Regions from separate parts of the Homo sapiens genome. Here regions 2, 3 and 4 are each linked to region 1. Evidence: fine-mapped expression QTL. A gene starts in region 1. Each other region holds a variant in brackets. All regions are shown on one strand. Distances are from middle to middle. Region 1 holds the start of MACROH2A2 (macroH2A.2 histone). Region 2 overlaps MACROH2A2 (macroH2A.2 histone). Region 3 overlaps MACROH2A2 (macroH2A.2 histone). Region 4 overlaps MACROH2A2 (macroH2A.2 histone).

What was found. PIP is the estimated chance that this variant, and not a neighbour inherited with it, causes the effect.
Region 2: its variant is the best candidate, but not a certain one, in a credible set for the expression of MACROH2A2 in whole blood (INTERVAL, PIP 0.56).
Region 3: its variant is the best candidate, but not a certain one, in a credible set for the expression of MACROH2A2 in unexposed skin (GTEx, PIP 0.72).
Region 4: its variant is the best candidate, but not a certain one, in a credible set for the expression of MACROH2A2 in tibial nerve (GTEx, PIP 0.50).

What each region holds. Positions count from the first base shown.
Region 1 is chr10:70,047,819-70,055,959 of GRCh38, reverse strand. MACROH2A2 (macroH2A.2 histone) reads right to left here and starts at 3,114. Exons shown (of 9, transcript NM_018649.3): 1 at 2,960-3,114.
Region 2 is chr10:70,072,889-70,081,029 of GRCh38, reverse strand. It overlaps MACROH2A2 (macroH2A.2 histone), which reads right to left. Exons shown (of 9, transcript NM_018649.3): 2 at 5,200-5,430. The coding sequence starts at 5,371. Among named protein-coding and RNA genes, the nearest start is that of MACROH2A2, 24 kb to the right of the region's middle. The variant AAGGC/C (reference allele first, on the strand shown) is at 4,031.
Region 3 is chr10:70,085,241-70,093,240 of GRCh38, reverse strand. MACROH2A2 (macroH2A.2 histone) reads right to left here. Exons shown (of 9, transcript NM_018649.3): 3 at 3,075-3,181; 4 at 1,287-1,484. Among named protein-coding and RNA genes, the nearest start is that of MACROH2A2, 36 kb to the right of the region's middle. RefSeq lists a cis regulatory region at 2,125-2,138 and an enhancer at 2,059-2,203. The variant G/T (reference allele first, on the strand shown) is at 3,061.
Region 4 is chr10:70,098,527-70,106,667 of GRCh38, reverse strand. MACROH2A2 (macroH2A.2 histone) reads right to left here. Exons shown (of 9, transcript NM_018649.3): 7 at 6,371-6,460. Among named protein-coding and RNA genes, the nearest start is that of AIFM2, 30 kb to the left of the region's middle. The variant GC/C (reference allele first, on the strand shown) is at 5,006.

The DNA.
Region 1 (8,141 bases):
GCTTCATTCTTTTGAACTGCTGCCTAATATTCCAGAAGACAGATGCACCAGAGTTTATTTAGCCATTCCCTGTTGATGGCTGTTAGGCTGTTTTCTACTTCAGAATGACCAAAATTGCAATGAACATCCTTATACATGCTGAGCTCACGGATGCCTGCTTCTTTGGGTGACATACTGAGAAATGGAATGGTGAGTCACAGAATGTGTGCATTATTAATTTTATAGTGCCAAACTGCTCTTCCAATTGGTTATATCAATTTACACACCAGTCAGCAGTATATGAAAGTACCTGTTTTCCCACTAGCTTGCCAAAATCACTTTTTACCTTGTTTTACCTGCATGTATATTTTATCTCCTAGGCTTGGGGTTGTAAGCTTTATGAGAGAAGGGCCCAATGACTTCCTTATATTTCATTTCTTTCCCTATCTAGAGGTGTTTAAGAATTGGTGTATACTCAGGAGGCTGAGATGGGAGGACCCCTTGAACCCAGGATTTCGAGACCAGTCTGAGCAATATAGCGAGACCCCCATCTCAAAACAACAACAAAACAAACAACAAAAGACTTGGTGCTCAATAAGTGTTTGTTGAATGATCTCTAACCACAAGTTCTTTGTTAATCTCTGTGCAATATACTTTCCATTTACCAAGACTGCATCTAACTTGGAGGTTATTTCTTAAGGTTGAAAAACATTCTTAAGAAAGTTGGCTGAATTTTTGCACATCCCTCCCCGGTAACAAGTTACAGATACCTTTCATTTAAAGTTGCCTAAGACAGGACTCACCTCCTGTTCTGCTGGCAGGAGGCAGTGAAAACAGATGTGGTTGTCTCAGACAATAGCTAGCAGGGTGTCCCACCCACTGGGAAATGGCAGACCAGAGGCGCTTTAAAAATCCTGGGAACCAGACAGAAGATGGAATGGTGAGGGAGTAGGGTCAGAATCACAGGGACACTCCGGATTCAAGGAGGTAAATTCTTTTACGCAGTTTTGATATAGAGGAAACCACTAATAATGTGTAAAGTCTGACAATTAATGGATCCAGGTGAGGTGTAACTGTGGTAGGATAGGAAAAACCAGAGAAGAGGAGAACTGGGCATGTTTTAAAAGGAAATTTGGCTACAGGAAAGAGGGGTTATGAAGATGTGAATTATGCGACTCAAGATAAACTTTTCCGCCGGGCAGTGCCTCTATTTATTTATATGTAATTTTAGGCTAAAACAATTCTAAAAATCACCAGTATGTTTCCAAATCTTGGAGCTCTTAACATTTAGTTTGAAAATAAAAAGTGTGTTAAAACGGATTGAGAATTATGTGTAGCTTAGTTTGTGGTTCAAAACAACACACACGAAGACACGTTCTCGCTCTTAATAATGTTTTCTTTTTCTCTCACCTATTGAACCGTTTCAGTAGCAACTGTGCAGCCCAGTGAGGTGACAATTGGATTTCAAAACAAACACAAATGAGCAAAGTGAGGAAACCATTTGCCGCGGTGGACTAATGGCCCCTAGGGGATCCTGGGGTCTGTGGGGCTTAGAACTGGGCCCTTGTTTTGAATTCCTCTGAGGTGGACAGAAGCTGGAAGGACACCTCAGTTCCAGCGTGGCTGTGACAGGGTAACTGCCCTTAAAATCAGGGCAGCGGAGCCACGGTTCCCATCGCGTCCCCTCAAACACTCAGGGCCCCGCACTTTGGTTTCTCAGCCCATTTCTTCTCGCGCCTTTCATCCCTTCACTCATCCAGGGCCGTTGCCAAAAAACCCTGGCAAGGACCAGGCCTCAGTCAGGCCCACGGTGGTCCACTGCACGCGACGGGAAACTCCTGGAGGAAGCTCGTTTGGCCCTTGGGGAACCAATGCCCCTTTGGCCATTGTTGTAAGGAACAAAGAGGGCAAGAACTGAGGGCGCCCCCCCAAGGAAAGGCGGGGGAGGACACCCACGGGCGATCCGGGGGGCTGGCCGGGCTGGGGCTGAGGTGCGCCGGGGCTGGAGGCTGGGAGCCGGGGGAGGCAGGGCTGGTCCCCAACCGCCGCGCCCCGCGAGCGATACGCACGGCGTCCGGCGCCCGGCAGAGCCCTTTCCTGCGCCGCAGCCAGTTTACTTTTATTCCCTTTTTCGATATTTTTATTATTATTATTTTTTCCCGCGCAAAGCGGGAGCCAGACTGCCCAGGCGAGCCACGGCCGGGCCGCCATTTCCCGGTGAAAGCGCAGCGCGCGTCGGCACCGGGCGCCCCGGAAAGGGAACCGAAGGGGAGTGCCCGGCCTCGCGCCCTCTTCCGCGCCGGCCCCGGGGCGCACGCCCGCCCGCGGCGCCCGGGTGTCCGCGCAGCAACCCCCAGCCCTCGCCCCGCCACCCGGCGTCCCCGACCTGACCTTCCCCGGCGCGGCCCGCCCCCGGACTCGGGTCCCTAACCTCCGCCCGGCTGCTCCGCGCCCCCTCCATTGTCAGCCTGGAGCCGCCGGCGCCCTGCCCGGGCACCTTCAGAGGCCCCCGAGCGGCCCTCCCCGGGCTCCCTCGGGCCCTGCGCAGCCCCCCACCCATCGCCCCGTGCCCATCGGCGGCCGGGCGCCTCCGTCCTCCCGCTCCTGCGCCCGAAACTCCGCATTCCCAGGAGACCTCCGCTTCCTCCGGGTCCAGCCTCGCCTGGGGCCCGCTGCTGAACCTCGCATCCCTCCTCCTTCCCCTCTCAGTACCCTCGACGCCCCCGGCCCCTCGCTGGCCGCAGGAATTTGACCACTTCTTTAGCAGCCCCCCCTTTATCGCCCAAGGAAGCAAGTTGGGCAGCTGGATTTAAGAATTTGTTTTTGCAGAGGGTGGGTCGGCTATCGAGGGTGCGCCCGCAGGGGCTCGGGGGAGAGGCAGAGGTGGTTCTCTCCGGCCCCTGCACTGCCCCGGCGGCGCGTTTTGTTTCCAGACCCCGGAGCACCCTAAACAATAATGCCATCGCCATGGCGGGCTCACCTGGTGCTGCGCCGCCTGCTCCCGGCGCCCGGTGCCCTCTGCGCGCCCCTCCACGGGCGCAGGTTTGGCCCACGCGGCGCCGGTGCCGGGCAGGACTCTTTGCCTTTCTTTGGGTTCTATCTGTGCGTGTCAATGGCGGCAAGCGGCAGTTCTCTGGGCCGCGGATAGTAGCGGGGGGAGGAGGAGGAGGGAGAAGGGATTGCTCCTTCTCCACATAACCACCTCTAGGAGGAGTTGCTCAGCCTCATCCCCCGCCAGCCCAGGCTCCGCGACGGGTCCGGGGCTTTCGGTGGGGCTTGATGAGCTATTGTCCTTCAGGAGTATTAATGGTGAAACCGCGCGGCCTCCGCGTACTTGGCCGATCTGCGAGACGAGCCGAGGGCCACTCGCTAACATGAGGCTTTCCCCAGAACTGGGCACAAACGCGCTATGGTCGCGATCCAGTCTCCTGTTAGCTGGATCCACCTTTGGTGGGAGAAGGTGGCGTGGGCGTTCATCTGGCAGCTCTGGGGAGAGTCTTCGAAGGGGAAAGCGAAAAATGCCACCTTCTATATTTTTGTGTCCTTAAATAATAACAAGTACATTAACGTTTGTGTCCACCACTGGGAAGAGTGCATAGGGCGGCCACAGCCACGAGAGCTGAGAATTTATATCCGTGCCTGTAGGCTTTTTAGAAATTAAGACCGATTTAGAATCCAGCGTTGCATAATATTTGGAGAGGCAGATGTATGTTTTGGTGGGTGAGACTGTGTGTATGGGCATAATTTTTAATTGGGTTGCTTTACAAGGTGTTAATTTGCAATATCCCAACGGGTATTTAGATGAGCGCGAGGCTATTGTCTTCAGGACCAGTTTTTATTAGTTACTAGAAAATGCATCTTTATGGGGGTGTGGTGGACACTGTCGGGTGTGATAATGGGGATTAGCAGTTGCTGTGTTCCTAGTGGAAGCCAGTCTCGGCTTTGTATTGTGAGTTGTTGGCCAGGGCTCCATGGCTGGAGGGGAGTCAAAAGAATGTGTTTATTTCAGTGGGAAATACTAACTTGCTGTGGACCATCCAGGTTTCCTCTGATTTCTCCTACAGTCAAAGGACTGTGAGAGGCAACATTTTGATCCCTTCCAAAAAGAGAAACCGGTGCAAACAGAATTCTCCAGCCTTGGCCAAATGGCTGATTTTTAAAGCTGTTACATTTGGTAATATTGTGTATATTTGCTACTACAAACTTGTAACTATTTAGGCAGTGGGGACTTTGGAGTGACTGAAAGCCTCCCAGTGCCTGAGTGGGAAGAACTCATGCCTACCACCCTCTGCGTCTCTACTAGTTAGTTAATCATGGCTATTGCTGGCGTTTATAGATAGCGGGTTAGGTTTAGAACATGTGCATTTTAAAGTGTATTTGCTGAGAAATCAGCCATGTTTCTCTCTGACTTCCTCCAAATCACGCATATATCATCAACATATGCATAAGCCTCTATTTCAGTCTCCTATGGCTTCTCAAACTCCCCTGGACTCAACAGTCTCTGTTTCTTGGGGCTTCCTTTACTCTTTTCCTAAGCCTTTCACGCCCTCTGTGTATGACCTCACTGTTCTTTGTCTTGGAAGGTATTTTCCAGGTCAGATATCCAGTCAGGATAAAGTCTTCTTTCCCCAAGATGTATATTTAAAGGGTTTCAAATGATCCCCTGGGGCATCCCATAATGATGTCCTTTCCCATTCCTAAAGAAAGGGTCTCTCTTCTTATACCTTCAGGTGTCCATTCTTCACCAGAAATAACCATCAAGCCAACATTCAAGAGAGTTCAGGAGTTTTCTATGAGTGCTTGAAAAATACTCATACTCTGTCATCCAGTCAGCCAGGCTGACTGAAATATAGTTGAATAATTCATCAGTAGATATTAGATTCACATTCTCCTTGTAATTTCCCAATAAAAGTGGCATATGTGGTCATTTTTATGTGAATTTTATATAACAGTTCATTCTAGCATTTTGTTATGTGCTATCCTGAGAGAGGCTGGATCTAGTAAATTTACTGGTTAGGATTCTCCCATTTCATACTGGTTGGTTTCTTCAGACAGATGATGCTGTCACAACTCAGAAAATCAAGGAAGAGGTCAGCTTCAAAATACTCTGATTCTTAGGATAAAAGGGTTCTTAGAGTTCACCTAGTGGAAACCTTTGCTATAGGAAGAAATCTGGTATTTGGAAGGGTGAAATGACTCAGCCATGGCCTCGCAGGACATTAGTGGGAGATCCTCCAATGCATGTCCAGATACCCAGTCAATGCAGTTTCCGCCAATTCCAAACTTTTCAGGATGTATAGGGGACAAATATGCCACTTAATATGCAGATCTAGTTGAATTATGTGTGTTTAATACCGAACATTTAACACATAAAAATTTAACACTGAGATAGTATCATATAATATTATATAAAATTAAAATACATTTTAAAAAGTCAACATGATCATAAGTTGATAAGTAATCTAGAGTTCCGCAGTGGTCTCTAGCTCGGGGAACCTCTGACAAGTTGAATAATAAAGAATGATAAGAGCTTACACTTATTGAATGTTTACTATGTGCACTGTACTAAGCACTTTATCCTAACTTATTTAATCCTTTCAACACTTGTATGGGGCAAGCACTATTTTCTCCTTTTTACAGACTGAGGCAGGGAGTGGATGAGAAACTTTCCCACAGTTATAGAGTTAGGAAGTGGCAGATCCATGCTCTTAATCACTGCCTTAATCTGAAGGTGGAGAAGTGCATTTGTTTTAAGCAAAGGAATTTTGCACTCAGTCACATGATCTGAGTCTAAGAGGGGCCCTTGGGCCCCTCCCAATAAATGTCCCTAAGGAGTCAGCAAACAGCCTAATTACAGGAGGGTTGGTTGATTACAGTTGCACTGAAAACATTTTCTTAACCCTTGACCTGTATGTGTGCATAATATTATGAATACAGGTATTGATTGTGAGTTGACTCCATTACAGCAAACATGTCTTTAATAATTTTATTGAGATGCAGGATGAAGCACTTCTCCATTTAGAGAGAGGCATGTAGCATAATTTAGAGATGAAAAAAAAAAAAGAATCAAATGAATCAGTCATCCAACCAGATTTGTATCCTATTGGGTTGCTAGTAATTCATCCACAAAATCATCTACTTCAAAAATAGCTTCATTGATTTACCCCCCAAACCCTTTTTCTTGATCCAAATTTGTGATTTTGTGTAAACTGAGTGGACTTTTATTTTTCATGATTAGTTCTAATCAGTTTACGATACATATTATAATTTGTGATCATTTTACCCTCCTAGGATCTTAATATGCAATTACCTTAGTAATTTCCTGACTTTGCATCTTCCAGAATTTACCTATGTGCATGTAGGTATATATTTATATCTGGCATATGTAAGTATATGCGTAAGATTTGTAGATCTAAATTAATTTTATTTGGGAATTTCTGATCTCCTTTGAAGTAACCTGAGATTCCCTGGGAGTGTCATAGAAACAGATGGAAATCATTGGTTTATGCACTTCTTTGGATGTAAGTTAGGAACTCTAGACACTGTATTAATTTTATCAAGACACCAACTGGTATAACTCTAAATAACAATGTGGGAGCTTGAGGTTATGAATGCAGACAAAGCACCAGGCTAACAGTATCCCACCCTGTGAAAGAATAAACACAGCGTCCAAAAGTACGTTGTAGCTAGGAAAATACTGGACAATTTGACACATAAATTTTTGTTTAAGCTGGAAACTTACAAAGTCTTTCCTGTTTTTATATTTTGAATAGTGAACATGATTGGTGTTAAACTTTTATTTCCTTGATCACGACTGATGACTTTAGGATCTTAATCATGTGTGGAGGGGGAATAATATCCTTAAAAAAAAAAGGACACGCAGGCAATCATTAGGCCAACAAAGACTATGCTTATAATTTCTGGCTAAAATGAATGTCTTGGTCTCCTAGCAAAAGAAACATTTTACTAGTCCTGGTTCTTAAAAACAGTGACAAACTATGTCTTTTTTGATACTAAGTCTTGACCCTTTGGTTCTGGGAAAGGGGATTTGCATGAGTAGGTATGTGTGTGTATAGATGCATATTTAGATATGTACATTTATATATGAATCAAATATTTGATGCATATGTTACATGTGTATACCTTGTAAGATGAGTAATGACTGAGATTCCAGTGTGCTCAGAGTTAGGGCTGGTTTGGATTTTAAAGAAATCTACCGAATGTTTAGCGTTTAACTGATGAACTATATTGTAAAAGAAAATGAAGTGTTTCAGCTTTTTAAGACAAATACACTGTCAGTCCCAATTATGCAAAGTTGTGGTTAGGAAAATAAGGCACGTGGTATCATTACGTTTAATGGAAACAGAGCCCAGAGCTAAGGGGAGTGTGCCAGTTGGTAACTTGCTCTGATCGGTTACGGAGCTTTCTGGGAGATCATCCTGTTACCTCCAGGCAGAGTTCTTTGTGACAATTGTGATGAGAAGTGGCAGCAAGTATCCAGAGAGTTTGGACTTTAGCATCTGTGTTGGCAGATCTGTGCAATGTGACCTCACACCTAAACAAAATTGCTCTTTACAGTTTAGGCCCAGTCTGGAGAATGGGGGCATTGATTTTCCAAATCCACAAATGCAGAATACCATAGTGAAACTATAATTTATTTATACAAATGGTGTGTTTTTACAAAGGCCATCTGTCAGTTGACTCTCTGATCTAAAACAAATCTGTTTGTTCCCCCAGAAGAAATAACATGTCTGTTGAAAAAAGATTTATGGACGACAGGCTGCCCAATCCACCAACCATTGGTATAATAGTAACTATTTATGATATATTTACTTCTAAAGGAGTGCTGTGAGTGGAATCTATTACTTGTAAAGTATGGTAATTAATTTTTCATTACCTCAAAGCCAAGAAATGGAGCCCACTTGCATTTATTAAGATTGCTGTGTGAGAAACATGTTCCTTCTGGAAAAAAATATCCAAGTAAAGCATTCATAGAGCTGTGGCTCTGTGATAACTCACTGTTCTGATTGGGTAGATATAGGCCCATGGGGTTGATCTCAAGCCTTTGATTATTTTCTGGAGGACAAGGGGACGAATCACTCTTGAATGACCATGGCTACTTTATCTCTAGGCACCATGGATGGCCCTCATTAAAAATTAGA
Region 2 (8,141 bases), 25 kb before region 1:
GCAGTGGTAGAATCATAGCTCACTGCTGCCTCAAATTCCTGGGCTCAAGGAATCCTCCCACATCAGCCTCCCTAGCAACTGGGACTATTCAGAACATGCCACCACACCCAGTTAGGTTTTTTTTTTTTTTTTTTTTTTTTTTTTGAGATGGAGTTTCACTGTTGTTCCCCAGGCTGGAGTGCAATGGTGTGATCTTGGCTCACTGCAACCTCCACCTCCCGGGTTAAAGTGATTCTTCTGCCTCAGCTTCCCAAGTAGCTGGGATGATTACAGGCATGCACCACCATGCCCGGCTTATTTTTGTATTTTTAGTAGAGATGGGGTTTCATCATGTTGGTCAGGCTAGTCTTGAACTCCTGACCTCAGGTGATCCACTCGCCTTGATCTCCCAAAGTGCTGGAATTACAGGTTTGAGCCACCGTGCCCAGCACACACCTGGTTAATTTTTTAATTTCTTGTAGAGACGAGGTCTCACCATCTTGCCCAAGCTGGTCTGGAACTCCTGGACTCAAGTGGTCCTCCTACTTTGGCCTCCCAAAGTGTTCGGATTACAGGCATGAGCCACTCTGCCCAGCCCTCTTGGACATCTTATAGACACCAAAGCTCAACAGGTCCCAAACTGAGCCCCTCCTGCTGCAGCCTGGTTCTCATCCATTGCTCCCTACTTCAGGTACAGGCACCATTCTCCATCCACTAGCTGCTTTGCTCTCTCTTCTCCTTCCTCTCGGCAAGACTCTTTTTTTTTTTTTTGAGATGGAGTTTTGCTCTTGATGCCCAGGCTGGAGTGCAATGACGCGATCTCGGCTCACCACAACCTCCGCCTCCTGGGTTCAAGTGATTCTCCTGCCTCAGCCTCACGAGTAGCTGGGATAACAGGCATGCACCATCACGTCCGGCTAATTTTGTATTTTTATTAGAGATGGGGTTTCTCCATGTTGGTCAGGCTGGTCTCGAACTCCTGACCTCAGGTGATCTGCCCGCTTCTGCATCCCAAAGTGTTGGGATTACAGGCGTGAGCCACCACGTCCAGCTGGTCAGACTTCTTTTACCCATTCCCTACTCCTTTTGTCTCCAAGTCCACACCTCAATCTACTTCTCACCCCATGGCAGTGTGGCCTGAGAGAAAGTAGCTAGTCCATACCTACAAGATTCATATCATCCTTGATGCCCCTCCCTGTGGATCCAATCCATTATGGAGTGGAGCTGACTCCGCCCTCCAGAAAGCTCCCAGATTTTCCATTTCTTCTCACCATCCCCACTGTGCACCCTTGGTCCTGGCCACTGTCAGTTCTTCACAAAGTGACACTAAAACAACTCCACTGGTCTCCTGGAATCTGATCTTGCTCCTTGACAACTGATCTCTACCTAAAGCCAGAGTGATGCCTTGCAGATGCTGCCACCTCTCTTTGATGCCTCCTCTGCCGTGTGTGTGTGTGTGTGTGTGTGTGTGTGTGTGTGTGTGTGCGCGCGCGCGCGCGAACCCTCAACGTGGCCTTCAAGGGCCGTCACAGTCTAGCGCCTGCTGCCCTGCCCCCATTTCATCTCTCACTCCTCCCATTTCCAAGCTCTGCTCTCGGCACATTAGAAAGGGCCACACACTCTTTTAAACTTGGAGTCTTCTCCCTTACTCCCCACCTCCCTTACTATCTTCCCCTAGTTCACCCGCCCCCCCAGTCTGAATCTGGCTGACTCCCTTCCCCACCTGGCTGCCCATCAGAATCATTTGGGGGAGCTTTTAAGAATCCTGATGCACAGAAAATACCCCAGAGTCTCGGGGGTGGGACCCAGGCATCAGGATTTGAAATCAATCGATACGAGAAAATGCAGGGTTGACAACCTGGTTTAGGTCTTAACAACACTTCTGTTAGATTAGGCAGCCCTTCCCCCAACCCGCAGTTCCCGAAGTTCCTCTCATTCCCTGCCCGACAGCACCTGATCTTATTGTGAGGCGTTTCCTTCTTGTCCTCCTCACTAGGCTCTAAGTCCAGCAATGGGAAGGACCAAGTTAGCTGGTTTTCTGCTGTATCTTCAAGACCTGATTCAAATGAGGCACTCAGTCTAGATTTGTTTCATGAATGTGGAAGTCATTTCAAGGGTGACAGGAGGCTTCCACACTTTGACCCCCCTTCCCTAAACAGAATCAATGGATACCTCTTTAAAAAACAAACAAACCAAAAAACAGACTAAAATCCCCCATGTCATTTACTCAACAGTAGCTTGCAATTCCACTAATATGATTCATTCCCTTGGATTAAAACACCTTGTCTCATTAAAATGCAAATTCAGCCTGAAAATACAACACCTTAATGGAATTAGTCATTTATACTTTGTCCTGAATGATTTTGTCAGCTCTTAATAGAGGGGGGAGGAGAAGAATTAGCATTTATTGAGTGCATCCTATACGCCAGGTGTTTTACACATATTAGCTCATTGAATGAGGTTAAAAGAGTTAGTTCTGGAAACACCTGGAGCTCAGAGAGGTTAAGGTAACAGAGCTGGTCAATGAGTCATCCCGATTGGAACCGACATCTGAGCCTGCACTCAGTGCCTGCCTGCCTTTGGGGGAGAGAAAGGGCACAAAGAAGGGAGGGAAAGGACACAGAGGACAGGCCTGGGCCTCAGGAGACCAATGTCACCTTCTCCTCCTCCACGTGGCCCAGGATGGTCTGGACACTGGGACTGGCCGGGGGCAGGAGGACTTTGGCAATGGCACCCTTGCAGGTGCTCATCCTCTCCATGTTCAACCCACTGTATAAATGGCCCAATTCTATTGCGGGAACTCTGCCTAAGGACTTACTGTGTGTGCTGACGTGGAGATGCTCAACAAATGCTCTTTGAATGGATGAACGAACAGGAAGAGGTAAGCTTCGTTTATCTCACACATCTGAACCAAAGACTAACAGAGATGCTGGGGATTCCAAAGGCCAAATTTTGTATATGCACGGATTAGACTTTTGCCAAACGGAGGCACAGGAAGTACTTAGTTATTTTCATCACACAAATATTGGGGTAGTGTAGGGCAGCAAAACTGCGTGGCTTGAGGTCGAGGGCGTGAGGGAGTCCTAGTTCCCCATCTGGAAGCTGTGGGATCTTGCAGTTAACTCAGTGTCTTCCAGTCCCAGTGGGTGACACACACCTAACAGGTTGTTTTAAAGCCTCATAAACTCTTCTCAAAGTCTGTTCTCTCCCTGTCTCAGCTGGGAGGTTTTCCCATCAGATTCCTTGGCCTCACTCCAGATCCAGTGAATCAGACCCTTTGAGAGTATATCTAGGAACTTGCATTTTATTTTTTATTTTTATTTTTGTATTATTATTATTTTTTAGTAGAGATGGGGTTTCACCGTGTTAGCTAGGATGGTCTCGATCTCCTGACCTCGTGATCTGCCCGCCTCGGCCTCCCAAGTGCTGGGATTACAGGCGTGAGCCACTGTGCCCGGCCTTTATTTTTTGAGACGGAGTCTCGCTCTGTCACCTAGGCTGGAGTGCAGTGGTGTGATCTCAGCTCACTGCAACCTCCAACTCCTGGGTTCAAGTGATTCTCCTGCCTCAGCCTCCCAAGTAGCTGGGATTACCGGCCTGTAATCCCAGTAGCTGCCATCACGCCTGGCTAATTTTTGTATTTTTAGTAGAGATGGGGTGTCACCATATTGGCCAGGCTGGTCTCGAACTCCTGACCTCAGGTGATCCACCCGCCTCAGCTTCCCAAAGTGCTGGGATTACAGGTGTGAGCCACTGTGCCTGGCGGGAACTTGCATTTGAAACAAGCATTCCCCACATCTTTTGGCTTGAGGTTAAAAGGCTGGCTACAATCTTGCTATTCAACATGTGGTCCCTGGACCAGCAGCATCATTATCACCTGGGAGTTTGAGGAATGGAGTCTCAGGTGCCACCCTGCCCTTGTCAACAAGATCCCTGCGTGACCCCACTTGGAAAAGAACTGCTTTTCAGAGCCCTCCAGCTCTCCCCAACCTCCTAAAGGAGGGAAGGACTTTTAGCTCAGGAGGAAGGCTTTCATTTCATAAGAGGAAGG[AAGGC/C]TCATGATGCAGAGGTCTGCCTGGTGGAAGCTCTCGGGGGAGGACATTTCCTCCTTGGATCCGTGGATCAAGGAAAACCTTTCACCAATAAATGTTGGTTGGTGGGCGATGGGGACTAAGAGGGCAGGGCAGGACTGAGCATCTAAAGAGGAAAAACCAGCAGAAAAGAGGAATCTGGGGACAGAAGAGAGGACCAGCCCTGCCACAGCCCAGAGGATTTCATGCAGTGAGGCTTGCCTCCCCAGTGTTAGACCATCTGGGGAGGTTTGCTTTTTAACCTGGCAGAATTTCCAAGGAACTTAACCTTGGTGTCTAGGGAATTTGTTAACCTTGGGCAAAGTCAGAGACATTGTTGCTCGTGGCTATTACCCAACAAGGGACTAAATCATACTTATTGTACATATATATTTATATATTTTATTTGTAAATACTTCTGAAAAGCACCCCTGATATTGTAAAGTTTGGTTTCTATTTAACTATGACATAAGAGAACAACAACAAAAAAGCTAAAGAGAAAGTTACTAAGATAAAGAACACACACAGCAAAATCTCATCTTTCAGTAAAAAAATTAACTTTAACAACAAATATGGGAAACTATTTTCTGTGCACCCCTATTAGACGAGAATCACCTCAGTGAAGGAGAGCAAAATTAGAACATTACATCGGCTTCATGCCAGCACCTGAAAGATGCTTTTAATGATGCGATAAATGTTATTTATGGACCCTGAGTCCCAGTTTAAATATACCAGGAAAACTAATGTTTAATGAGCAATTTGATGTAAAAAGACTCCCTTTTACAAAATGAATATCAAATCCCCCATTCTCCCTGCAGTTTATTTTCTTCAGGAGCTTAGATATTTATATATTGCATTCGCTTAAAGCAAGACATATCTTTTGCAGGACTGGTCTAGGAGGGCCACTTACTTGATTGTGGGTTCTCCGCCTTCCATGCTGATCACCTGTCCTTCCTATACCCTCTTCTCTCCCCTAAAGTCTGCAGAAGTTGATTTTAGCCAAGCAGGCCAGTTGCAACCCTGTCACCACCCACAGTAGCCTTGAGCCAGCCAAAAGGCAATTTGGAGCATCCCTCCCCAGCCTGCGAGGGGGACCCAGGGGAGGGTGGGGACCTGGGAGCAGGCAGCCTCCTTTGCGTGTCCTCATTACCTGCCAGGTACTCAATGACTGCCGCCATGTAGACAGGGGCGCCCACGCTGATCCGGTACTTGAACGTCCCTTTCTTCAGATAACGCATCAGCCTCCCCACTGGAAAGATGACACCTGCCCTAGCTGAACGGGACAGCTTGGACATTTTCTTCTTCCCACTCCGGCCCGACATCTTGCTTCAGTTTCCCTCTCAGCTTGCTGACACAGTGGCCTCCCGGCACTAACACAATGCTAAAAAGGAAAGAAGACAGAGTTGAGGAAGGGTAGTTGGCAAACATCTTGGGCACAGTGGCATGGCCCTTGGGCACCACTGTGACACCTCTGACTGCCCTGGGGAGGCAGCTGAAATCTGGCTGCTACTGCAGGTGCAGGAGGCACGGAGTCAGGCATGGGGTCTCTGAAGGGCATGGGCAAGCCCACCCACAAACATCCCTCCCCCACCAAAGCAGCCTGACCTCAAGAGGAAAGGCCACAGAAAACTGTCACTGAATAGGGAGGTCTCGGTCCTGTGGTCAGCTGAACAATGATCCCCAAAGATGTCAATTTCCTCATCCCCAGAACCTGTGACTGTTATCTTATATGACAGAGACTTTGCAGATGGGATTAAGCTAAGGGTCTTGAGATGGGGAGGTTTATCTTGGATTATCTGGATGGGGCTAACATAATTGCCTTAGAAGACGGAGGCAGGGGGTCAGAGTGGGCAGTAAGAGATGTGAGAACAGAAGGAAAAGGATTTTCCCCTCAAAGCCATCAGAAGGAATTAGTCCTGCTGATACCTTGACTTTAGCCCAGTAAGGCTAATTTTGGACTTCTGACCCCTGAACTATAAGAAAATAAATTTGTATTGTTTTAAACACTAAGTTTGGGGTAATTTGTTCCAGCAACAATAAGAAAACTAATACAATTCCTCTTGGCTTATATGACTTTGCCCATTATAATGGTTAGTGTATTAGTCTGTTCTCACACTGCTAATAAAGATGTATCCAAGACTGGGTAATTTATAAAGAAACAGAGGTTTAATGCACTCACAGTTCCACGTGGCTGGGGAGGCCTCACAATCATAGTGGAAGGTGAAAGGCACGTCTTATATGGCAGTAGACAAGAGAGAATGAGAACCAAGCGAAAGGGGTTTCCTCTTATAAACCCATCAGATCTCGTGAGACTTATTCACTACCACGAGAATGGTATGGGGGAAACCACCCCCATGATTCAATTATCTCCCACCAGGTCCCTCCCACAACATGTGGGAATTATGGGAGCTATAATTCAAGATGAGATTTGGGTGGGGACACAGCCAAACCATCCGTTAGGTTTGACAGACATAACTGAGAGCTGATGTGTATTTTTTAGACACTTTTCTAAATCCTGCAATAATGTAGCACTCAGAAATGGAAACAGGCCAGAAGAGGCAGTTTTACTGAATATGTGTGGTATGCAAACATAGCAAATGAAAAGCCATAATGCAGCCTGAGCGTCTGTTCCTTGGAATGAGGAATCCAGGTTGATTTTGGGAGAAACTTCACAGTCAGCACAAAGAGGTGAATTCAGCACCAGGAACTAAGAGAGAAACATTCACTGTTGCTTAAGGAAGCTATCTTTTGTGTGAAGACAAAATAATCACATATTCCTGGACAGAGTCTTTGTAAGCCCACCCACAATCTAGAAAATTGTAGTAGATCTTGGGTAGGCTTGGTCTGCTGGTTGACAGGGTACCGTAACCGACAAATGGAATATAATCTTCAGTAAGTAAAAGCAAATTACAAGGGACAAACGGTCAGGAGCAAAGAAAAGGAAAATGACATTTTCTAGGAAATGTGTTAATATATCAAAGCTCTCTTCCCCAAGGTCAATGGCGTTCTCAGGGGCCGTTTCCTCTGGAGATGAAAAATGAGAAAGTCAGAACAAATTGAAATTGGTTCTATCCATTGATCCTGGTTAGGTCATCATACCAACAGGCAAGATGGCAAAGGAAAGGAGGGCCCAAGAAAGTCCCTAAATATGACAGAAGAAGATATTAAATGAATGCTTGGTTAATATGAAATAGATACAAAACCAGGATTTACTTAATCTAGGTGAAAGAGTGAACAGATTTCAATTTTCTAAAGCATCTGATAACTCCATTACGACCAAGGAGACTATATTAAAAGCTCTGAAATTAGCAACAAAGCCCTTTCTCAACTCTCACCTGTCCCCGAGGTGAATGATTCAAGTTTGGGGCATTTTAGTATATACTTCATATACATTATTTAAAATGCTCATATGTACTTACTACTCCCCTATTTTATACTTCATATGTCGTTTTGCCACCAAAGGATGTAGCTATTCATCAGTTAGGTACAAGCAAAGATGAGAGAAGTGCCTTAGACTATTATCTCTTTGACTGCAAGGCCCAGAGATCAGGCAATGTTGCCATGTTGTTTTATCACGTTGTTTCTTCATCTGGAAGAAACAAGATCTCCCACCTTTGCCGTGCTGCTGCTGTCTGTGGCTGCTCACTCTCATAAATCCACTTGTAGGGGTTTTCTCTTTGAGGAAGCAAGCAACTATGTGTTAGGTAAATGTATGGAGGGCCTGCTGTTAGTCAGCCCTGTCGCAGGAAAGAGGGGAAACAGACAGCATTGCTAAGTGGTCCCTGTCCTCACATAGCACGTGTTTGCTAGCTGGGTTGTGGTGCTCTAAATGGAGGTGGCTCTTGCTATAGTGGAAGGAGCCCAGGACTGCGGAACAGAAAGTCCTGGGCATAGCGCCGCTTCTACATAACTACAGTCATGCACCCCACAATGACCGCATATGACGGTGGTCCTGTATGATCATAATGGAGCTGAAAAATTCCTATGCCCTAGTGACATCTTTTTGTTGTTGTTGTTGTTGTTTGGGAAGGAGTCTTGCTCTGTCCCCTAGGCTGGAGTGCAGTGGTGCAATCTCGGCTCATTGCAACTTCT
Region 3 (8,000 bases), 37 kb before region 1:
GCTGGTACAATCAAGGAGCTGAATTTTAAATTTGATTTAGTTTTAATTCAAATCCAAATAGCCTTGGCTTGTGTGCCTTAGCTCACACTTATAATTCCAATGCTTTGGGAGGCTGAGGCAGGAGGGTCGCTTGAGCCCAGGAGTTTGAGGCTACAGTGAGCTATGATCTCGCCACTGCATTACTGTACTCCAGCCTGGGTGACAGAGTGAGACCCCTGTCTCTTAAAAAAAAAAAGCCACATGTGACCAGTGGTTACTGTACTGGGCAACATAGGAAAACATTATTCTATCAGTGGCATCTCTGAGCTAAGCTACCTAGTATATCAAGCTAACCCAAACACCTAGTATATCAAGTATATGCCAAACACCTGAAATTCCACTGGCGGAACTCAGGGAATGCCTGCAGGAGACTAGAGGCTGTTTGGAAGGCAACACAGAGCTCTGCAGAGAAATAAAATGCAGGTTCCTGGCTATCATCGCTCACTTCAGATTTTGCTGGGGGTAGTAAAAGGGATCTGAAAACCATCCCTGCTTAGGGTTTGGAAACCTAGAGAAGACCCATTTCAGCTCTAACCTCAAAGGCCCTTTATTCTTTTACCTGTACATTCTTGTCATTTTCTTCCGGCACCAAGCTGCAAGAGTCCTCGGTCCTTCAGAGGTGTCTGCTACGAAGTCATTGTCTCATCTTTAAACTTCCCTCCTGTTCTGTGAGCGTCTTAGTGTCTGCCTGGGCTGCTCTAACAAAATGCTATAGACTGGCTGGCTCACAAACAACAGAAACCACTTTCTTTTTTTTTTGTTTGTTTAAGAGACAGGGTCTTGCGCTGTCACCGAGGCTCGAGTGCAGTGGTGCCATCATGGCTCACTGCAGCCTCTAACTCCTAGGCTCAAGCCATCCTCCTGCCTCGGCCTCCCAAAGTGTTGGGATTACAGGCATGAGCCACTGTGCCTGGCCCAGAAACTTGTTTCTCATAGTTCCGGAGGCAGGAAGTCCTTGGCGCAGGCAGGTTCTGTGTCTGGCAAGGGCTCACTTCCTGGTAGATGACGCTTTCTAGCTGTGTCCTCACATGGCAGAAGGGTCCCTCTGCCTCCCTCAGGCCTCTTTTATAAGGGGACTGTTCCCATTCGTGAGGACTCGCCCTCATGATCTAGTTATCTCTCAAAGCCCACACCTTGTAATCCTATGCCTCTGGGGTTAGGTTTCAACATATGAATTGTGGGGGAACACAGACATTCAGACCATTGCAGTGGGAGTGCCTGGCCCAGGACACGCAGCCTCGGCCTACCTTTTTGGACGTCCGTGGTTTGGCAGCCTTGGATTTCTTCCCCCCCTTCTTGCCTGACGTGGCCTTCCTGCCTCTTTTCTCTGGGGGTGGGGAGAGGATCGTTTCCGACTTGCCTTTGGTCCCTCGCTTTTTGGCCAGCAGTTCGGGGTGAATTCTGGGCAGGACGCCTCCACTGGCGATGGTCACTCCTTTTAGCAGCTGAAGAGAGAAATGCATGCGCTCATGTAGCAAACAGCCTGCTAGTTCCCAATTTCATACAGTTCTTTTTTTTTTTTTTTTTTGATACAGAATCTTACTCTGTCACCCAGGCTGGAGTGCAGTGGCGCGATCTTGGCTCACTGCAGCCTCCGCCTCCAGGTTCAAGCAATTCTCTTACCTCAGCCTCCTGAGCAGCTGGGATTACAGGCACCTGCCACCACCCCGGCTAATTTTTGTATTTTTAGTAGAGACAGGGTTTCACCACGTTGGCCAGGCTGGTCTCGAACGGCTGACCTCAGGTGATCCACCTGCCTTGGCCTCCCAAAGTGCTGGGATTACAGGCGTGGGCCACTGTGCCTGGCCTGGACTTAATACGGTTCTAACTGTTAAATGTGGCCTCCGCTTTCCTAAAGAAACTGCGTAATACACCATTTAATTGGCTTTTCCCACTTTCAGTTGTAGAGCATTTCTCCGTAGGTTAACAAGGCATCCTGTGATGTTGTACAGAAAGCAAAACGAAGTAAAGCAAAATAGAAGGGACACAGAAGTTGAAACCAGGGATGTTGCCCAGGGCTCTGGAATTCCAGACACAACACAGGATAAAAAGCTTCCCATGTGGGGAGCGCAGCTTGAGAAAATGATGTTCAAAGGTCATTGCAAAGACTAGACCCAGTTAATGATGAACCAGTGGTCTCCACAAGCTTGCACATACATTCCATCAGTAAAGTATGTCTGGCCATGCTCCTCCCAATCAATATAAGTTAATTTATCTGCAAAGAACAGACACGTACTACTCCACTAATATATTCTGCAGATTCGAAACCAACACTACCCCAAGCATGGTCTGCGACCATGGCTCACCCATGAACTGGTAGTTACCCGTCAGTGACAACAGAAGTATAGCAAGCATCTAGAAACTTTCACAGCAAACTGACAGTTATTGTATATCTGTTGAATCTGATAACAAAAAATTATGGCTTGTAGTTTGCTTTTTAATTTTTCTAGTGATTTTTATTACATTTCTGGAAATTATCAGTCCATGATGGATTGGCCATAAAAATGGCTTCTTCACTACAGTTTGAGAAGAGTGAGATTAGAAAATAAAGATAAATGAAAAGAAACAGAAATAAAAATTCTTATACTATTTACCTACCACCTTACATATACTGTAGGTGAAAAGGGGGTATTCGCTTGACTTTGGAGTCAGTTTCAGAATATAAACAGTCAGTTCTAAAATATAAAGAGTCTTCTGCCTTCATCAGAAAAAACTGTCAACTAAGTTTGGGTGAAGAAAGTGAAGAGAATAACATTTGTGCCACACCTTCCTCAGCAACACACAGAACTTGTCTTCAAAGAGAAAAGAAAGGTCTGATAAGACCTAGAATATATAATGAGATCTATGCCAGAGGCAATTTTATTTTGAATCTGAATGATAAGAGCTAGCAGAATTTGTTCTTTTATATGGCCTGAGTTTTTTTTGTATAAATGTAATTGGGAACTGTAGCAGGAGTGACTCATGGCCAGCCAGGCCCACACATTAGCATGTTTGGCAAACCCATTCTACGGCTTCCCTCAA[G/T]GCTTCAGACATACCTGGTTGAGCTCCTCGTCATTGGCAACTGCCAGCAAGATGTGTCTCGGGGCTATCCGGGCCTTCTTGTTGTCCCTCGCGGCATTGCCGGCCAATTCTAGAATTTCCGCTGAAATCACAAGGAGGCATTAACAGGCAATCACAGAATGGGGTCTGAGCTAAAGCTTTTCTTTAGAAATGGCCTTCAAGTTTGATCACATTCATTCATTTGTGATTTCTATGTCTCGGCCTGGAAAGAAATCCAGGAAGCGTAAGAGAACTCAAGTTAGTCCCAGCTACTCAGGAGGCCGAGGCAGGAGGATCGCTTGAGCCCAGCCAGGAGTTCAAGGCTGCAGTGAGCTATGATTGTGCCACTGCACCCCAGCCTGGGCAACAGAGTGAGACCCTGTCTCTAAAAAAAAAATTTAAAAAAATTAAAAAATTTAAAAAAAGAAAAAATAAGTCAGGTCACAGAGAAGTAAGCTATTTTAGCAAGATGTTATCCGATCCTGTGGCAAAGCCTCCTGGTTGTCCCTCAGCATCAGTTCTCCCTCTTCCTCTTCTTCCTTGGTACAGGACTTCTGATTTTTTTTGCCAAGCCCATAACTGCAGGAAAACTATATTTCCCTTGATAAGTGTGGTTCTGTGACCAATATTTGGCCAAAGAAGGCAAGCCATTGTGTTTTCTGGTCCTTCTGGGAAGTGTCCATCAATGAAGGGGCTGTGCCCTTCTTTCCTTTCTAATGGTGGGCTGAGGACACGATGGCTGGAATTTGGGCAGCCATCTTTGACCAAGAAGAAGAAGTTGTGCATGCTAGAGCAAGAGCACAGAAGGAAACTGAGTCTCTACCAATCTAGACTGTCTTTTCTAGACTTCTTTTGTATGAGAGTGAAATAAACTCTCTTGTTGAAGCCACTGTCTATAGAAGTGAATCCTGACCAATACAGAATCCTGCTATAGAACCTAAATTCCTCTCAGTCTGTGGGGCACAGGGCCATCTCTGAAGAGAATAGTGATGTAGGTAAAGTCTGTTCTGGGTGCCCACTTGGACTTCTCTTAGACTGTCTTTTTCTTTTTTGTTGAGACGGAGTCTTGCTCGTTCTGTTGCCCAGGCTGGAGTGCAGTGGCATGATCTTGGCTCACTGCAACCTCCGCCTCCTGGGTTCAAGCAATTCTCCTGCCTCAGCCTCCTGAGTAGCTGGGATTACAGGCGCACACCACCACACCTGGCTAATTTTTGTATTTTTAGTAGAGATGAGGTTTCACCATGTTGGCCAGGCTGGACTCGAACTCCTGACCTCAGGTGATCCACCCGCCTGGGCCTCCCAAAGTGCTGGGATTACAGGCCTGAGCCACTGCGCCTGGTTGACTCTCCTTTTCCTCTTTGCTCAATGCCCTAGGTCCTCCCTGTCCTAAAAGAAAAGTGGATGGAAGGACTGACTTACACTCTGGGATGAGGAAATGGTTAACCCGAAAAGTGAATTCCTAAAGGGAATGCCAGGAGACCTGCGTAGGAAAGCACATAGAGCCTGGGGGTCTTCCACATACTTCCCAAAACTTTAGCATGGCTGACTTTAACAAACACGCCACTTGGCCAATGTGAAAACATTGATAAGAAGAAATTTTCCTAAAGCTATTTCCCATGCTATTAAAACCTTGGGGTAAAAAAAGAAATCTGTAGAATTGGTTTCTACTATCTATATGCTTTCCCCCTTCCTCTTCTGTTTTATTTCGTTATTTTTCTTTCTTCCTCAATTTTAGAAGGATGTTCTGCTAAATCAAATTTGCCTTCCAAAGTATGAATGAGCCTTTAAAGAAAAATTCCTTCCCTTAGAAAGCTAGAAGGAATGTGCCAATGTGTTGTTGTCTCACTGATAATGAGGGGGGAAAGTGTGCATGTGTGCGTGTGCGTGAATGTACTGTGTGTGTGTGAGTGTGCAGGCGGGCATATGTGCGTGTGTGTGTGCGTGAATGTACTGTGTGTGTGTGAGTGTGCAGGCGGGCATATGTGTGCGTGTGTGTGCGTGAATGTACTGTGTGTGTGTGAGTGTGCAGGCGGGCATATGTGTGCGTGTGCATGTGGGTATGTGCTGGGAGGATATGCTGATACAATGGCACAAATACTAAGCCCTAAAATTAACAGATGACTTTGTATGAGTCTTTGCAATCAATCTAATTTCAAATAAAAGAGCACATGAAATTGCCATCATTCATAAAATCTACGGCAATCACAAAAACTTGACATAAGTATGCTGTATTAACTAAGCACATGTGATTAACAAAAAATTAGAATAAAATAAACATTACAGTTAAATATTCATAGGCATTTCCATAAAGAAAAGTGCTGAATCACCGCAAATTCATTCTCACATCTTTTCCAGATTATTAAGCAATGAATATTGTGTTTGCCAACAATTCATTTATGCAGTGACCGTGTTTTCTGAATCAAAGATTGGGGCACTAAAATTTGAGGAGTGTGAGCATGCGTGTCGGGACAGTGGGATAGGGTATTTGAAATTAATGCTGTCTGTGAACCCATGGATTATACTGGAAAAATGAAATTAATGCTGTATTAGATAAGCAGGCTTGTGCTTTCAGGCTGTTGCCCAATCCTTGCTTTCTCTTCAAAAGGATGCCCATTAAAAGGAAATGGAGTGGCCAGGCATGGTGGCTGATGCCTGTAATCCCTGCAATTTGGGAGGCAGAGATGGGTGGATCCCTTGAGGTCAGGAGTTCGAGACCAGACTGGCCAACATGGTGAAACCCCGTCTCTACTAAAAATACAAAAATTAGCCAGGCTTGGTGGCGTGCGCCTATAATCCCAGCTACTTGGGAGGCTGAGGCAGGAGAATCACTTGAACCTGGGAGTGGAGGCTGCAGTGAGCCGAGACTGGGCCACCGCACTCCAGCCTGGGTGACATAGTGAGATTCTGTTTAAAAAAAAAAAAAAAAGAAGAAAGAAAAGAAAATGGAATTATAAGGCTTTCAAATAGACTTTATTTTTGGAGACAGGATCTCACCTCTGTCACCCAGGCTGGAGTGCAGTGATGGCTCACTGCAGCCTTAACCTCCTGGACTCAAGTGATCCTCCCCCATCAGCCGCCTCAGTAGCTGGGACCACAGGCTTGTGCCACCATGCCAGGCTAATTTTTAATTTTTTTGTAGAGACAGGGTTTTACTTTGTTGTCCAGGCTGGTCTCAAACTCCTGGGCTTAAGTGGTCCTCCTACCTCAGCTTCCCAAAGTGTTGGGATTTCCAGGCGTGAGCCGCTGTTCCCGGCAGGCTTGCTTTATGGCTCTGGGTTAAAATGTGCAGCTCTCCATTGTGCACAGTGAAGGGAAGTGTGCTGCCCCTGCTCATCTCAAGGGACTCTCATTTCTGGGGTACACATGGGAGGAAGAAGCACTCCACTCATCCCTTTTTCTAGATGGGTCTGGGGGTTAATGAGCCTCCCAATTTTAAGCTTCTGAGCAACTGAATTGAATTTAGCATCCTGGATCATTACTTTCCTCTCTCCTGTTACCTGCATTTAGAGGGAGAAATTAAGCGCCCTCCCCAAGTTCATCAAATTAACTGTCAGCAATAAGAGGCAGGGCCATGGGAAGCACTACATATTTGGAGTCTTCAGGAAGCCCATGAAGGTCAGGTTATTTTCAGCTTGACAGACAGATGCACAGACATTCACAGACAAAATAATCTGCCGGAATCAAACGTAGCATAGGACGAGACTGAAGGCAGAGACTCAGCATGCAGCACAATTCAGGGAATGCAGATGATGCTTGGGGATCATGCAACTGGGCTCTTAAAAAACTCTTTTGAAACAATCTATAAGAAAGAAAATCTTGATTATGTGTTCTAGTGCAAAAGCAGTGGTGGGACTTTTTTTTTTTTTTTTCCTTAGAGAGAAAAAGATAATACATCACAGAAAATCTACATCAAATAGTTCTTATCTCTTTTGGATGTTTAGTCTGGACATCCTTGAGACATGGACTTCACCATTTAAATATTTGTAATAACATTAATCATTAGCCAGGCACAGGGCTCATGCCTATAACCCCAGCACTTTGGGAGGCTGGGGTGGGAGGATCATTTGAGCTCAGGAGTTCCAAGGCTGCAGTGAGCTGTGATAGTGCCACTGCACTCCAGCCTGGGTGACAGAGGAGACCCTGCCTCTAAAAAAAAAAAAATTCAAAGCAAATGAAACAAGAAAAACATTAATCATCATTAATAGTTTCAAATGTTATTATGGCAAATATAGTCCCATGAACTATAAAAGTTTGTTACATTCTTGAGTGACTTTATTGATCTTGGGGATTTTATTAATCCTGCCAAATCCTTATATTGGCAATCAATAGGAAAACTGGATTTATACAGCACTAAATTTACTCTACTGCAAATGTTGTGGGAAGATCATAATTCTGTTAAGTGGTGGGGACTTCTATGGCAAATCCCTCACTTCTCACAAGTCACACTTCTAGCAATAGTAACCATCTGGAATACAGCTGAGTATCTAGCAGTAAAAAGAATTTCTTTAGCCAAAAGGGATGCTGTAAAGCTCATACACATTATTTTGGAAGAGTCTATGTCCCTTCATTTTGTATACAATTTAAACCAACAGTGGATATTCCAGCCCACAGAAGATGGGAAATAGCACATTAATTATAGGGTTGGGACAGGTGAGGTGGAGTGAGCAAGACTCTGTCTCCTTGCCAGGCCCTTTCTTCCTTGTCCACTTGCCCACTGCTTGGCAGTGTCCCTGGGGTTCTGTCTGTGCCTTCTGCTCTGCTAGGGCCATGCAATCTTCTGGGTAAAACCCCACTGGACTCATGGCTCCAGCTTCTACCCACCCGTCTGTACTACTGAATCTGCACCTCCAGCCCTCCCATGATATCACCCAGATAGCCTCACCTGGGGGCTTCACAGGTAAAGCAAAATCAGTCCCCAAATC
Region 4 (8,141 bases), 51 kb before region 1:
CGCCACCATGCCCGGCTAATTTTTTGTATTTTTAGTAGAGATGGGGTTTCACCATGTTGGCCAGGTTGGTCTTGAACTCCTGACCTCAAGTGATCCACCCACCTCGGCCTCCCAAAGTGCTAGGATTATACTGCACCCAGCCAAAAGTCATTTTTAAATAAAAGGAATATGTTCCTATTGGCAATGTCAAACATCCAATCAAGTAAAAAATGACTTTCAGGGTAGTGCACGATGACATTTCAGTCCAAAACAAAGTATGTTCATGGCAACTGGAAATGAATAACACAGCTTGTAGCCATAATGCTTTGTAATGTTCTCCAGAGTTGTCAAGGATGAGGGTCAAGTTATTGCAAGGGCTGTGACCCTGGTATTTGGTATAAGCACCTATCCACATAATGACTAGGGGCATTCTCTTACCTAATGTGATGTTGCCTGGTGAAGACCTGCATTCTGAGGGTGGCAGTGCTGCTGCTGGGAGCTTCTAGAACCTTCCCCCAGGTGAGCCATCACAGTTCTTGGGAGTCACCACAGCAAAAGGGGACTCTAGGTTGGCCCCTTGTCCTGCTGAGAGGCTGCTACTGCTGATGCCTGGTTTCCGTGACACTGTGGGTTTTCTTTTAACAGCACCTCAGTTTCCCACAATGGCCTCTCTTCTTCCTGCGTGTCTGGGCCCAGTGCTCTTCTCTCTGCTGCAGCCCCACCTCCTAAGCAGCCATCTGCAAGCCATTTTCCTCCTTAGCTTTCAACAGGGACCTGCACCTCATGACCTTTCTGGGGCCCCAGGGCTAACACGTGCCCAGTAAAATGGCCATTCACTCCTGAAACCCGATTCCCCTTTTTCCCTCTTTGTCACTGCAGACACCATCAGTTTCCTCTGCCTTGTCTCATTTCAGGCCCATGTGCTTCATTTTCACCCCCACTCCACCCCCACCCTCATCCAATACAGCTTTCTTGATGGTCTTCGGGCCCCAGCCCTCTGTCTGCCAAACCATCCTCCACACGGTTGCTGGAGCCAAGGTCCTTAAACTCCACATTTAAACTCAGAATCTGCAACTGCTCCTGATTGCCCCCTGGCCTTACTGCAGTCCTCCCAGGCTCCCTTCATGGTCGGCCCCTCTCCCCTTGGAGTCTATCCATTTCTTGCTCTTTCTGGATGCCCAGTCGTCCTCCAGCCAGTGGGCTCAGTCCCCTGCACACATGGGTCTGGCTGCACCTCTGTCTCCACACTTGGCTATCCTCCTTTGTCCCTGACTCCCTCGCCCATTCTCTCCGGGCCTCTGCCATGCAATTCAGCAGCCAGCTGTGCTAAGTGATGTACTGTGTTACCCTGGGGTCCCCGCCTGGTTGTAAAATTCAGGAGTGTTCAGGGCCTACAATCACATCCACATCCTGATGCCTGCGCCCGACAGCACACACCGTAGATGCTTAACGTGAACTGGTTCTGCCCCAGCTGACATCTTCACTGAAGCACTTTTGTATTCCTTGCTGCTGCCTGGCTCCTGCCACAGTCACTGGCAGGCAGGTGCTCCAATATTCAACAAATGAATGAAAGTCCTGACTTTTCATCAGTTTGCTCAGCCCTGGAAACCCTGGACTTACCTTAGCTCCAGCTTCTGCCTCCCTGAACATGCAGCATCGCTGCCTCTCACTGACTCTGCACCTGAAATATTTTCTTGATCCACCCTCCCCGACCCCCTGCCACAGGGTGGGCCTGCACTGCAGTTGGTCTGTTTTAACCATGTTAAGATGCACTTTTTTTTTGTTTAAATATTTTAATATTGTTGAAATCAGGAAGCATCTTAGAACTGCTGTCAGCCTGGAGCTGAGTTCTTCCAGAAAGAAATTACATTTCCTTCTATGTCACCTGGGGACACTACCAAACTAAGGCTATGTCTCACTCTCTTCTCTGCCTCAGGTTTTGAGCTGCACTGGATCTGGCTGCAAATCTTCAGGAGCACTGGCTTGCGGTTCAAATTCTTTTTCTGTTTTTTAGACACAGAGTTTCACTCTTGCCACCCAGGCTGGAGTGCAATAGCGTGATCTCGGCTCACTGCAACCTCTGCCTTCTGGGTTCAAGTGATTCTCCTGCCTCAGCCTCCCAAGTAGCTGGGATTACAGGCACCCACCACCACGCCCAGCTAATTTTTGTATTTTTACTAGACAGGGTTTCTCCATGTTGGTCAGGCTGGTCTCAAACTCCCGACCTCAGGTGAGCCACCCGCCTCTGCCTCTCAAAGTGCTTCGATTACAGGCGTGAGCCACCATGCCTGGCCAAATTCTTTAGTGAGGCTTTTTTTTTTTTTTTCCTCTCTGTCCACTGGATGCCAAGGTCAAGATATTTGCTCCTCCTTTCTGCGTGGTGGGTTCATGTCTTGCTTGCTGTTATACTAATGTGCCCCAGCTTTATGTGGGGCCTCCTATTAGACACTTTATTTTGGAAATTTATTTTTTCTTAATGTTACATACAATAAGAGTATATCTTAACAACTGATGGTGTTTTTAAATGAAATGCAGTGTGGTGTTAGACAGTGGCGAACCATCTCCCCTTCTCCATTTTTCCCAGGGTGCTAACACTCACTGGCCCCAGGCCATGGCTTCTTACACCTAACATATTTGCACCAATGTCTTAGCTCAAAATTGTGTCCTGTAGCCCTCTCCTTCCTTCCAGGTTCATGTCTATTTCCTTGGTGCAGACTTTTGTATTCTTTCCAGCTAGTGTCTGGATTGCTGCCTCTCAACTTCTGCACGTCTGAAATTGTACATCTTTTGTCCTCATTCTTGAATGACAACGTAGCAAAATGTGGAATTCTTGGTTGACAGTTTTTTTTTTCCCTTCAGTGCTTTGAAGGTATTTCTTTCCTGTTTCCACACATCTTTTTTTTTGCTGATGAGAAGTCTGCTGTCAGTAGAAGAGCCATCATTTCTTTACAAATGATCTGCCTCTCCTCTCGGGTTACTTTGAAGGTTTCTTTTGATTTTTCAATTTCTAAGGCTTTACCACAACACTCCAGGTTTTGGATTTATTTTCATGTATTTTGCTTGATATTTTCAGCTTAAGGGCTCATGCTTCATCCTAGAAAATTCTCAGCTACGATCTCCTTAAATAATGCTTTTCTACTTTCTATTTCTGCCTTTGGAACTCTGTTTAGAAGTGTGTTGGTGCTGGGCACGGTGGCTCCCACCTGTAATCCTAGCATTTTGGGAGGCTGAGGCAGGAGGATCACTTAAGCCCAGCAGTTCAAGATCAGCCTGGGCAACACAGCAAGAACCCATCTCTATTTAAAAAATAATTTAAAAAAGAAGTGTGTTGGAGCTTCTCATTCTGTGCAGAGCAGCTATTTTTCCTCTCCTTTGCACCCTATCAGGCAGTTTCTGGGGAACCTTCCCCACACCCAGGCCCCCAGTCCTGATGCCGTCTTAGATGACTGAGTTGGGGCTTGGTCTCATGGTTATATCGGGGATGTGGTAGAGCCAAACATTGAGTCGGTGGGCAATGTGGCCCTGGGCTTGGGTGAGGGGCTCTCTTCTCCCTTCTGCTACCCTAGAAAGACAGATTTTTATAGAAGTTGTAGCCCTGGGTGGTGGCGAGAGCTTTGGCTTCTTGTAAAGGCCGCGAGAGTCTCATGCAGCCCCTTGCTTTGGGCAGTGAGTCTGGCTCTGGCCCTCTTTATACTCTGATACAAAGTGAAGCGACTCTGCATCTTATAGACCTGGAGCCGAGGCCTGGGGCGGCAGCATCCTGCAGGTGCTGCTGCAGCCCTCCTGTCTCTGTCTACATGGAGGCTTATCTTATATTTGAGTGTGGCTCTTAGGGTTTTTAAAGAGACACTGCATCTATTACTGCTTTGCCTGTGGGGAGTAGTGGGTGGAGATTTAAAGTGTGGGCTCTTGTTCTTTCTGGACTAGAAGCCCCCATTACTTTTTTCTTTTCTTCTTTTTTCTTTTTTTTTTGAGACAGAATCTTTCTCTGTTGCCCAGGCTGGAGTGCAGTGGCACGATCTTGGCTCACTGCAACCTCCACTTCCCAGGTTCAAGTGATTCTCCTGCTTCAGCCTCTGAGTAGCTTGGGATTACAGGCATGCGCCACCATGCCTGGCTAATTTTTGTATTTTTAGTAGAGACGGGGTTTCACCATGTTGGTCAAACCGGTCTTGAACTCCTGTCCTCGTGATCCGCCTGCCTCAGCCTCCCAAAGTGCTGGGATTACACGCATGAGCCACAGTACCTGGGCCCTACTTTTATAACAATCAAGTCTAATCTGGACAGCCCCCTGCTTAAACTTCCAAGTGCCCTCATGTCCATGTAGGGTCAGATCCAGACCCCTTCGCACAGCCCACAGGCCCAGACTCATCTTGGCTGCTGTTTCTCTCCTCCCACGTGCTGACCCAAGACTCCCTGCTCATGCAAGACAAGCGTCTTCTTGCATGCAGTGCTCCTATTGCCCTCTGTGTCCCACCCCCAAGGGGTCTCACAGCCTCACTGCAGTCCTCCCACGCTCCCCTACGCTGAGGTCGTGGCTCCTGCTCTGTGCCCCAATTATGCATCTGAGGGCAGCGGTGGGTTTTATTTTCCTCTGAAGCCCTGCGGCACTTGGCACTGACTGAGGGTACAAGGAGTGAACTGATTGGGAGTCATGTGGGTGGGAACATGGATCTGAGGTTGAATCCACCTGTCAAAAAGTTGCCCAATATCCTGGACAAGAGATGTTTAAAAAAAACTTGTGCACAGATGTTCACTGCAGCTCTATTCACAATCACCAAAGGCGGAAACAGCCCAAATGTCCATCAGTAAATGAACGGTTAAACAAAATGGAATATTATTCAGCCATGAAAAGGAATAAGTACTGACCCATGCTACAGTATGGATGAACTTTGAAAAAAATGTTAAGTGAGAGAAGCCAGACAGAAAAGTCATATATTGCATGATCCCATTTATATGAAATGTCCAGAATAGGCAAATCCGTAGAGACAGAAAGTAGATTAGTGCTTGCCAGGGCCTGAGGGGG[GC/C]ACTGGGCATGACTGCTTAATGGTTAGGGGGTTTGTTGGGGGAAAAGCTAAGTGTTGAGAGAAGCTGAGGCAGGGCTTGCATGTCTGACGTAATGTAAAAGAGTCTTGGAACATGTCCGGGGTCCAGATTCGAAAACGCCTTGTGGCCTTTGGAACACCAAGCTCTGTGCCAAAGGGTGGAAGGCCACCCTGACACACCATAATCTAAGCCCAGGGCATAAAACCCCTCGTGGCTTGGATAGAATCCAGGGCTCGTGGCTCTGAATGTGTCTAGACTTGCTGGCTTCTTGCTCCTTGCTCTCCCAGGATCGATTGTATCTTGAGTTAAAAGAACCTGCTCTCCATTATCTCAAGTAGCAGAATATGTTCCAAATGCTTCAAAGGAAATGCTAAACTGTCACAGCTGTAGATCATGCGCTTGCCCTTTCGACCCCCACATCCTCATCACCTGTTTCTTTGTTTGATCACCAATAAATAGCCTGGGCTTCCAGAGCTCGGGGCCTTCACAACCGCCACACATTAGTGACAGCCCCCTGGACCCACTTTCTCTCTCAAACTATCTTTTCTCATTCCTTTGACTCCGCTGGACTTTGTCACCCCCATGACCTGGTGTTGAGTCCGATCAACCCAACAGGGTTTCTGTGTGAGGTGATATCAAAGCTCTGGACTAGGTGGTGGTGATGGCTGCACGACACTGTAAAAGTACTTAATGCCACTGAATTATACGCTTTAAAATAGTTCCAGTGGCCGGGTGTGGTGGCTCATGTCTGTAATCCCAGCACTTTGGGAGGCCAAGGCGGGTGGATCACTTGAGGTTAGGACTTTGAGACCAGCCTGGCCAACATGGCAAAACCCCATCTCTACTAAAAATACAAACACTAGCCAGGCATGGTGGCATGCGCCTGTAATTCCAGCAACTCGGGAGGCTAAGGCACAAGAATCGTTTGAACTTGGGAGGCAGAGGTTGCAGTGAGCTGAGATCATGCCACTACACTCCAGCCTGGGCGACAGAGTGAGACTCTTTCTCAAAAAAAAAAAAAAAAAGAACAAAACATAGTTCCAGTGGTAAGTCCTATGGTGTGTGTATTTTATCACACACATGCAAAGTTCACCCAATGGCTCTAGACCATTTTGGGGGATCTGATGCAAACTGACTTGAATTATTCAAACATATTGGAGTCCCCAGGACATCTGAAAGGATCTCTATGGGCCTGCCCAAATTACCTGAGATGCTAAAACAGCTTTCTGATTAGTTATGGCATACTTTGACTCATAAGCTGAATAGGCATGAGGCACGTGAGGCTGGAGACTCCAGAGAGGAGGGTGAGGCCATGCTGGTGACAGGAGCCTAGTTCCACACTTACCTTCGGCGACTTCCAAAGGGCCTTGGGATTTGCGAAGCTCCTTTACCGTTTCCAAGAACTCTTTTCCCCCAGCCTTTTCCAAGGCTTTACCTGCAAAGGAGAGCAATGGGAAGCCACTGTGGTTGTTCTTTCAATCTAATTACACTGTTTGACATATTTGTAGTAGGCCAGGAGAAAACAAAAGCACTGTTAGAAACTAGGAATTGAACTTCCCAATTGTTATCCTGGTTTGCCAGTGGTCAGGGGAGGCAGGGGACTCTGGGCCTCAGTCTAGCAGACTTAGATTGGCAAGCTTTTACCAAGGATATTTTAAGGGGTGATTTGGCCATAAAGCGGTCTCATGGCTTGAGTCTTGTAGATGATTTAAAAACAAAACAACAAAAAACTGTGATTCTAGTGTTGTGTCCCACAGGTTTAGTACTCATGTGGAGAGCTCTGAAGTCCTGGTCCCATCACAGTGCCATCAACGTACTGTACGTGCTTGAGTCAAAGGACAGACAGAGGCCCAGGGCAGCCTGGCATGTTGTTCCCCCAACCCGGTGCTCAGTTTGCAATGGAGAAATGCAGAGAGGCTAATCTCTAAGGACTTTCCTGCCGGGAGATGCCCTGAGCCTTTGATGTTAGGGGAATGCCCCACTCTTTCTTTTTTTTCCTACCTCAGCTCTTACTTCTACACAGGCCAAGTGGAACCCCTGGGAGATGACAGGACACCACCTCTGACCCCACAGGAACCCTGTCGGTGTGCACCAGCGCATCCAGCTCTCATGTCTCTGAGATGACATGGGTGTTTTGTCCAGACTGGGATGACGGCAGCTTTGGGGCAGCAGAGGAGGCATTTTTCAGATGTTTTCATCTTCGAATGAACTTGGTGATCTGGATGTCTGCAGCAAGTCTCAGCAATCTCTTTATGAATCATCATTATTATTATGGTTCAGTTCATGGTCTTTCCCAGGGCCTGGGTGCTGATGCTTCCCCACTCCACACTCGAGCCTCAAGTATATGTGGACAGCCACAGTACACTGTGCAGCTGGTTTAGGACAAGTGTCTATTCCAGTGGTCACTGTCCACTGGGGGAGGGCGTGCAGAGGGGTTTTCTTTGTTAATGTTCTTGGGTTTCCATGATGCAACTGAGAAATGGTGATTGTGCATTATACCCAGTACCCCTGAGACTCCTTTCTGGCCCCCAGATTCCTGGACACTGTTGATCTATTGGGTCCAGAAGCCTGGAGAAGGCCGGGTAACTGAAGCTGGTAGCCAGTTCATGTTGAGAAGCAGAGGACTAGGTCTACACTGGCGCCCTCTGCATTCAGGTCAAGGGCCAAATGGGAATGTGCAGAAGGCAAGGGGAATCCACCCTCCTCACTGAAGCCTTTTAAGAAAAAAGCATCCTGGAGAGAGGTAGTTTCTCTCTACAGAAGCATTCCCAAGAAGGAAAGGAGCAATGCTAGAATGAGAATACCACAGCTTTGCAACTCCTAACGAATGGCGGAATCTAGAGAAGAGGCATCAATGGCCACCAGCATCACACCAATACAGACAACCAGGCACGACGCGCCTCCTCGGGCACGAGCACTCGCCACTGACCAAGGAGTCTTGGCAAAGTTTTCGAACCTACACCTCATGAAACCTCTAGATCCAACCACCAAGTTATAAAAAAGCAAAGAAACATGTTTTATGATGCCAGGAGGATATAATCAACAAAATCCGGACTGCATGAAACCCTATAGGACAAATGGCCCAGCTTCCTCAACAAATGAATTGCAAAGAAATA